2 separate regions of the Homo sapiens genome follow, and region 1 is linked to region 2. Evidence: fine-mapped expression QTL. A gene starts in region 2. The other region holds a variant in brackets. All regions are shown on one strand. Distances are from middle to middle. Region 1 overlaps PIK3C2A (phosphatidylinositol-4-phosphate 3-kinase catalytic subunit type 2 alpha). Region 2 holds the start of RPS13 (ribosomal protein S13).

Region 1 (2,918 bases), 33 kb after region 2:
TTCTTAGAGACAACAGATTACCTGAACCATTTGCAAGGAGAATAATAAGGTGATAAGGTAATTTAAAGTAATATTTCATAAATGGCTGAAGAATTTGGAATTCAGAATCTGAAGCCACACTACTGGTAAGGGTGAAGATGGATTTAACTTAATTATATGATAGTCTCTGAACAGAACTGGAACCAATGGGTAAAAGACACCAGGACTCAGTTCCCATTAATCACCTGAATATGAAAAAGAAATCTATAGCTATCAGAGCTACACAGGATAGAATGAACCGCCTTGAAATGCAGTGAATTCCCCTTCACTACAGGCATTTAAGCATAAATTGAATGGCAAATATTGGAAGGACGATTATCTTTCAGGTGATTTCCTAGTGCCTATGCATAGAATTTGTGAAGTGTTTCTCATTTCCACCAACAGCAGATGATCTTTCGTTTAAAACCTGATGGTATTGCCTTTACAACTTTTAGAGCTTTCAGCTTATTAAAGCATACTCTGATTACTTGTACATATTATTGCTTCCTTCTAAAATATGAGTACCATATATTCTTACCATTTTATAGATGGTAAACAACAAACATTTGTTGAATAAGAATAATGATGGCTGCCATTTATTGAGCACATAATACATATCAGATATTAGGATGTTTTACATCCATTATTTCAAAACAGTTCAATAAATAGTAAGATAGAAATCTGCTATTAGTAGAAAATAACTTTGTATGACTTTATTTTATAAAAATGAAATCAAAGTTGATTTAACTTAGATATGGCCTTATTTATTTATTAGGTTTTGAGACAAGGTCTCACTGTTTTACCTGGGTTGGAGTGCAGTAGCATGATCATGGTTCACTGAAGCCTTAACCTCCTAGGCTCAAGTAATCCTCTCACCCCATCCTCCAGAGCAGCTGAGACTATTTATTCATTTTTGTAGAGACAGGGTCTCCCTGTGTTGCCTGGGCTGGTCTCAAACTCCTAGACTCAAGTGATCCTCCTGCCTTGGCCTCCTAAAATGCTGGGATTACAGGTGAGAGCCACTGCACCCAGAGATATGGCATTATTTTTAAGTTTAAAAGCTAAAGACCATACAGTCCTCACTGGGTCAATTAATGGACACCTCTGATTACTGCAAAGCATTTATTTAGGCTACACTAGGTTAAAAAAATTTTTTTTTAATTTATTTTGAGATAGAGTCTCACTGTGTCACCGAGCCTAGAATACAGTGATGCAATCTCGGCTCACTGCAGCCTCCGCCTCCCAAGTTCAAGCTATTCTCCCATCTCAGCCTCCTAAGCAGCTGGGATTACAGGGGCACGCCACCACACCTGGCTAATTTTTGCATTTTTAGTAGAAACAGGGTTTCACCATGTTGCCCAGGTTGGACTCAAAC[T/A]CCTGACCTCATGTGATCCACCCACCTTGGCCTCCCAAAGTGCTGGGATTACAGGCATGAGCCACTATGCCCGGCCACTAAGTTATTTTTCAAAGAGACTTAATTATGAGCAACTGAATCAATAAAGTAACACTGGATTAAAATAAGAAACAACTGTGATACCAGGGTATCTGCATCAGGATGTTTACGGCAGGTACACTTTAAGCTAAGTTCAAGGAAAAAAATAAGACATCAAGACACAGCTAATAAACTTACCTCGATCTCTGCCAGTTGAGAGACATTTGAAAATTACCATCCTCAGATCTAGTCCTTCTTTAAGCCAGATCTTATCCATAATCTTTATCATCTGTAAAGCTAACATATCTTGCCGAAGATCTTCACCAACCTTGAAATCAAGGAAACAAAATGAAACTTGTACATCTCCAAAAGACTTAACAGATTACATACTATGAAAGCTGTAATCCCAGCACTTTGGGAGGCCAAAGTGGGCAGAACACCTGAGGTCAGGAGTTCGAGATCAGCCTGGCCAACATGGTGGAAACCCCGCCTCTACTAAAAACACAAAAATTAGCTGGGCATGGTTGCACACACCTATAAAATGAACTGCCTTTTTATTTTTCTGCAGCATTCTAGGGAAAGGTACTTAACCTCTTCATATCTCAGTTCCCTGAACTGTACACTTTAAAAGGTTCAGTTTTATGGTATGTGAATTATATTCAATTATTTATTTATTTATTTATTTATTTTTTGAGACTGAGTCTTGCTCTATCACCCAGGCTGGAGTGCAGAGGGGTCATCTCGGCTCACTGCAATCTCCGCCTCCTAGGTTCAACTGATTCTCCTGCCTCAGCCTCCTGAGTAGCTGGGATTATAGGTGCCTGCCACCACACCTGGCTAATTTTTGTATTTTTAGTAGAGATGGGGTTTCACCACGTTGGCCAGGCTGGTCTCGAACTTCTGACCTCAGGTGATCTGCCTGCCTCAGCCTCCCAAAGTGCTGGGATTACAGGCATGAGCCACCATATGTGGCCTATATTCAATTTTCTAAAAAGGCAACATGGAGAATCTGTGGGATGATGAAATGTTCTACATTTTGACTGTATCAATGCCAATATCCTGATTGTGATACTGCACTACAGTTATACAAGATATTACTATGAAGAAGAGTACACAGGATTCCTCTGTACAGTTTGTTACAATTGCCTATGAATCTATAATTATCTCAAAATGAAAAGTTTACTTAAAAAAATTAACCCCCCAAAATGAATTACTTTTTAACTAAAACTTGAATAAGTTTTCATTTTCTTTAAACTGGATAAAATAATTTAAAAACACATAATAAGGAATACATTCTGAGACTAGCCAAGAAAATTATGGAAAAGAATAAGGAGAATTTGCCTTAAAAAATATTAAAACTTGGCTGGGCATGGTGGCTAACGCCTGTAATCCCAGCACTTTGGGAGACCGAGACGGGCAGATCACCTGAAGTTAGGAGTTCGAGACCAGCCTGGCCAACATGGTGAAA
Region 2 (2,918 bases):
CACGCCTGTAATCCCAGCACTTTGGGAGGCCGAGGCAGTGGATCATCTGAGGTCAGGAGTCTGAGACCAGCCTGGCCAACATGGTGAAACCTCGTCTCTACTAAAAATACAAAAATTAGCCGGGCGTGGTGGTGCGGCCTGTAGTCTCAGCTACTCCAGAGGCAGAGGCAGGAGAATTGCTTGCTTGAACCCAGGAGGCGGAGGTTGCAGTGAGCCGAGATCATACCACTGCACTCCAGCCTGGGTGACAAAGTGAGAATCGGTCTCAAACAAAAACACACAAATTAGCTGGGCCTGCTGGCGGGCGCCTGTAATCCCACCTATTCGGGAGGCTGAGGCAGGAGAATCGCTTGAATCCAGGAGGTGGAGGTTGCAGTGAGCTGAGATCGCGCCACTGCACTCCAGACTGGGCGACAAGAGCAAGACTGTCTCAAAAAAAAAAAAAAAAAGAGGTGGGGTCTCTCTGTCACCCAGGAGTGCAGTGGCTTCATCATAGCTCACTGCAGCCTGGGACTTCTAGGCTCTGGTGATCCTCTCACCTCTGCATCCCAAGTATCTGGGACTACAGGCACATTGCGGCTGGCTTTTTTGGGCGGGGGAGTCGGAGAGTAGTATGTTCTCAGGCCCCAGAACCATGTTCAGCACATAGAAGGTAAACATTTGCTGAATGAAGCCACTTGCACGAAGTCACACGCAGCTGAGATTCAAACCACACCTAACTGTGAGGAACTGTGTCAGGCACTCTGCTTAGCCAATTCCAACTCCTCCACTTGACAGCTGTGTGATTTGGGGCTGGTTAGTATCCAGCGGCAGTGTGCCTCTGCTTCCTCAACTGTAAACTGGGGTGAAAGCCATGAAGATTTATTTCAAAGTATTGTGGTCAGAATTAAACGAAATCAGTACATGTGAAGTGCTTACAATGATGCCTCTAGCACGGTGGCGAGACCAGAGTTTTGGCTATTTTTAAAATAACTTTACCACCTACTAGATCCTACAAGTCACACGAGGACAGGCGAAATAGGCTATGTTAGACACAAACACTCACCGATCTGTGAAGGAGTAAGGCCCTTCTTGGCCAGTTTGTAAATCTGCTCCTTCACGTCGTCAGATGTCAACTTCAACCACTGTTATGGAATAGAAAGCAGCCTTAGGATGAGAACCCAGGAATGGCGCCGCAGAACAGCGGTCTCTCCTTCCGCAAAACCGCGCTCCTCATACACGCAAGTTCCTCACCCTGGCGTCGCTTCACCCGAGACAAATGCCAACCCCCTCCCCGGATTCTCCCCGGTCCCAGCGCGCTACTTACAGTGGGGACGCTGCGTCGATAGGGTAAAGCCGACTGGGACAGGCCCTTCCTGGGGAGAGAAGCAGTCTCGAGGTGAGGTGGCGGCTAGTGCCAGAGCAGCCCAGAACATCATCCCCTCGGCCCGCTGCCCACACTCCCTGTCTTCCTCCCACCCCCCGCCCAGCAATCCGGCTTGATGCCCCGAGCTCACCCGGGAGCATGCATGCGACCCATGATGGCGGCGATCAGGCAACGAAAGGAGAGCGAGAGTGGAAACGCCGCAGGAAGCCACCCAACACGCAGGAAGTGACCTCACACGTCCCCGCTTCCTCTCACGCAGGAGGCGGAGCTACGCTGCGCAGCCACCGCCCGTCTGTGTGACTACATCTCCCGAAATGCATTTCAGCGTCGCAAGAGATCGTCAATCCAGCCTCATCCCGGCATGCATCGGTCTTTGGTCAGCCTTGTTGCCAGAGCGGGAATTTGAGGCTGACGCCAGCTTGCGTCGAAATTCCCTGTGGACGCCGAGATCACAAAGATTCGAATGCTGCGCTGGGGGTGGGTATGGAGCAGGTAGGGCTGGAAGAAGCAGCCATACACAGGTGTTTGCTCATTCACCAGTGCCTGGCTTTGTCCTGGCACTAGATCCCTCAGAGTCGGCCCTGCGCCTAATAAATTAACAGATACAATAGCATGTGATGAGGACCACACGGGAAGCCATGGCAGCGGCTACCGCCCAGCCAGCGCTTCCATTTCTCATTTCTAAATCCTACCCTAATCTGTCAGGGGAGAGTCGCTGACGGTGAAGAACCGGTCTAAGGAGTTGAACCAGGTCCCCACGGATGCCTGCCGCCCTCCGCACTCGAATTCCCCTGCGCAGGGCTCTGGGGCGCTGGGCTCGCCGGGGAGAAGGGTTGGGCAGAGGCTTACGGAGCTATGTTCCCAAGTGAGAGAGTTGGCGGGCAGGGAAGAGCCTTGGGAGCAAGACTGCAAAGGCCAAGAGGATGAGGGATAAAATGAAGCATTTGAATTTCATGGGAAAAGGGAACCGTCAAGGAAGAAGCTTTTTTTTTTTTTTGAGACGGAGTTTCGCTCTTGATTCGCAGGCTGGAGTGCAATGGCGCGATCTCGGCTTGCCGCACCCTCCGCCTCCCGGCTTCAAGCGATTCTCCTGCCTCAGCCTCCTGAATAGCTGGGATCACAGGCATGCGCCACCACTTCCAGCTAATTTTGTATTTTTAGTAGAGACGGGTTTTTCCATGTTGGTCAGGCTGGTCTTAAATTCCCGACCTCAGGTGATCCGCCCGCCTCGGCCTCCCAAAGTGCTGGGATTACAGGCGTGAGCCACCGCGCCTGGCCGGAAGAAGCTCTTTTAAGACAGACCTAGCCTGGGCAACATGGCGAAACCCCCTCTCTATAAATACAAAGAATTAGCCGGGCGTGCTCGCTCGTGCCTTTGGTTCCAGCTACGAAGGAGGCTGAGGTGGAGAATCTCTGGAGCCGGGAAGGACATTGCGGTGAGCCGAGATAGCACCACTGCGCGCCAGCCTGGGCAACAGAGCAAGACTCTGTCTTAAAAAAAAAAAAAAAAAAGGAAAGAAAGAAAAAGACTGACTCAGTGCCGGTACACAAC

What was found. PIP is the estimated chance that this variant, and not a neighbour inherited with it, causes the effect.
Region 1: its variant is the best candidate, but not a certain one, in a credible set for the expression of RPS13 in pancreas (GTEx, PIP 0.71).

The regions. Positions count from the first base shown.
Region 1 is chr11:17,108,784-17,111,701 of GRCh38, forward strand. PIK3C2A (phosphatidylinositol-4-phosphate 3-kinase catalytic subunit type 2 alpha) reads right to left here. Exons shown (of 33, transcript NM_002645.4): 22 at 1,649-1,778. Among named protein-coding and RNA genes, the nearest start is that of RPS13, 33 kb to the left of the region's middle. The variant T/A (reference allele first, on the strand shown) is at 1,394.
Region 2 is chr11:17,076,123-17,079,040 of GRCh38, forward strand. It overlaps RPS13 (ribosomal protein S13), which reads right to left and starts at 1,545. Exons shown (of 6, transcript NM_001017.3): 1 at 1,497-1,545; 2 at 1,307-1,355; 3 at 1,046-1,124. The coding sequence starts at 1,519. RefSeq lists an enhancer at 1,579-1,778.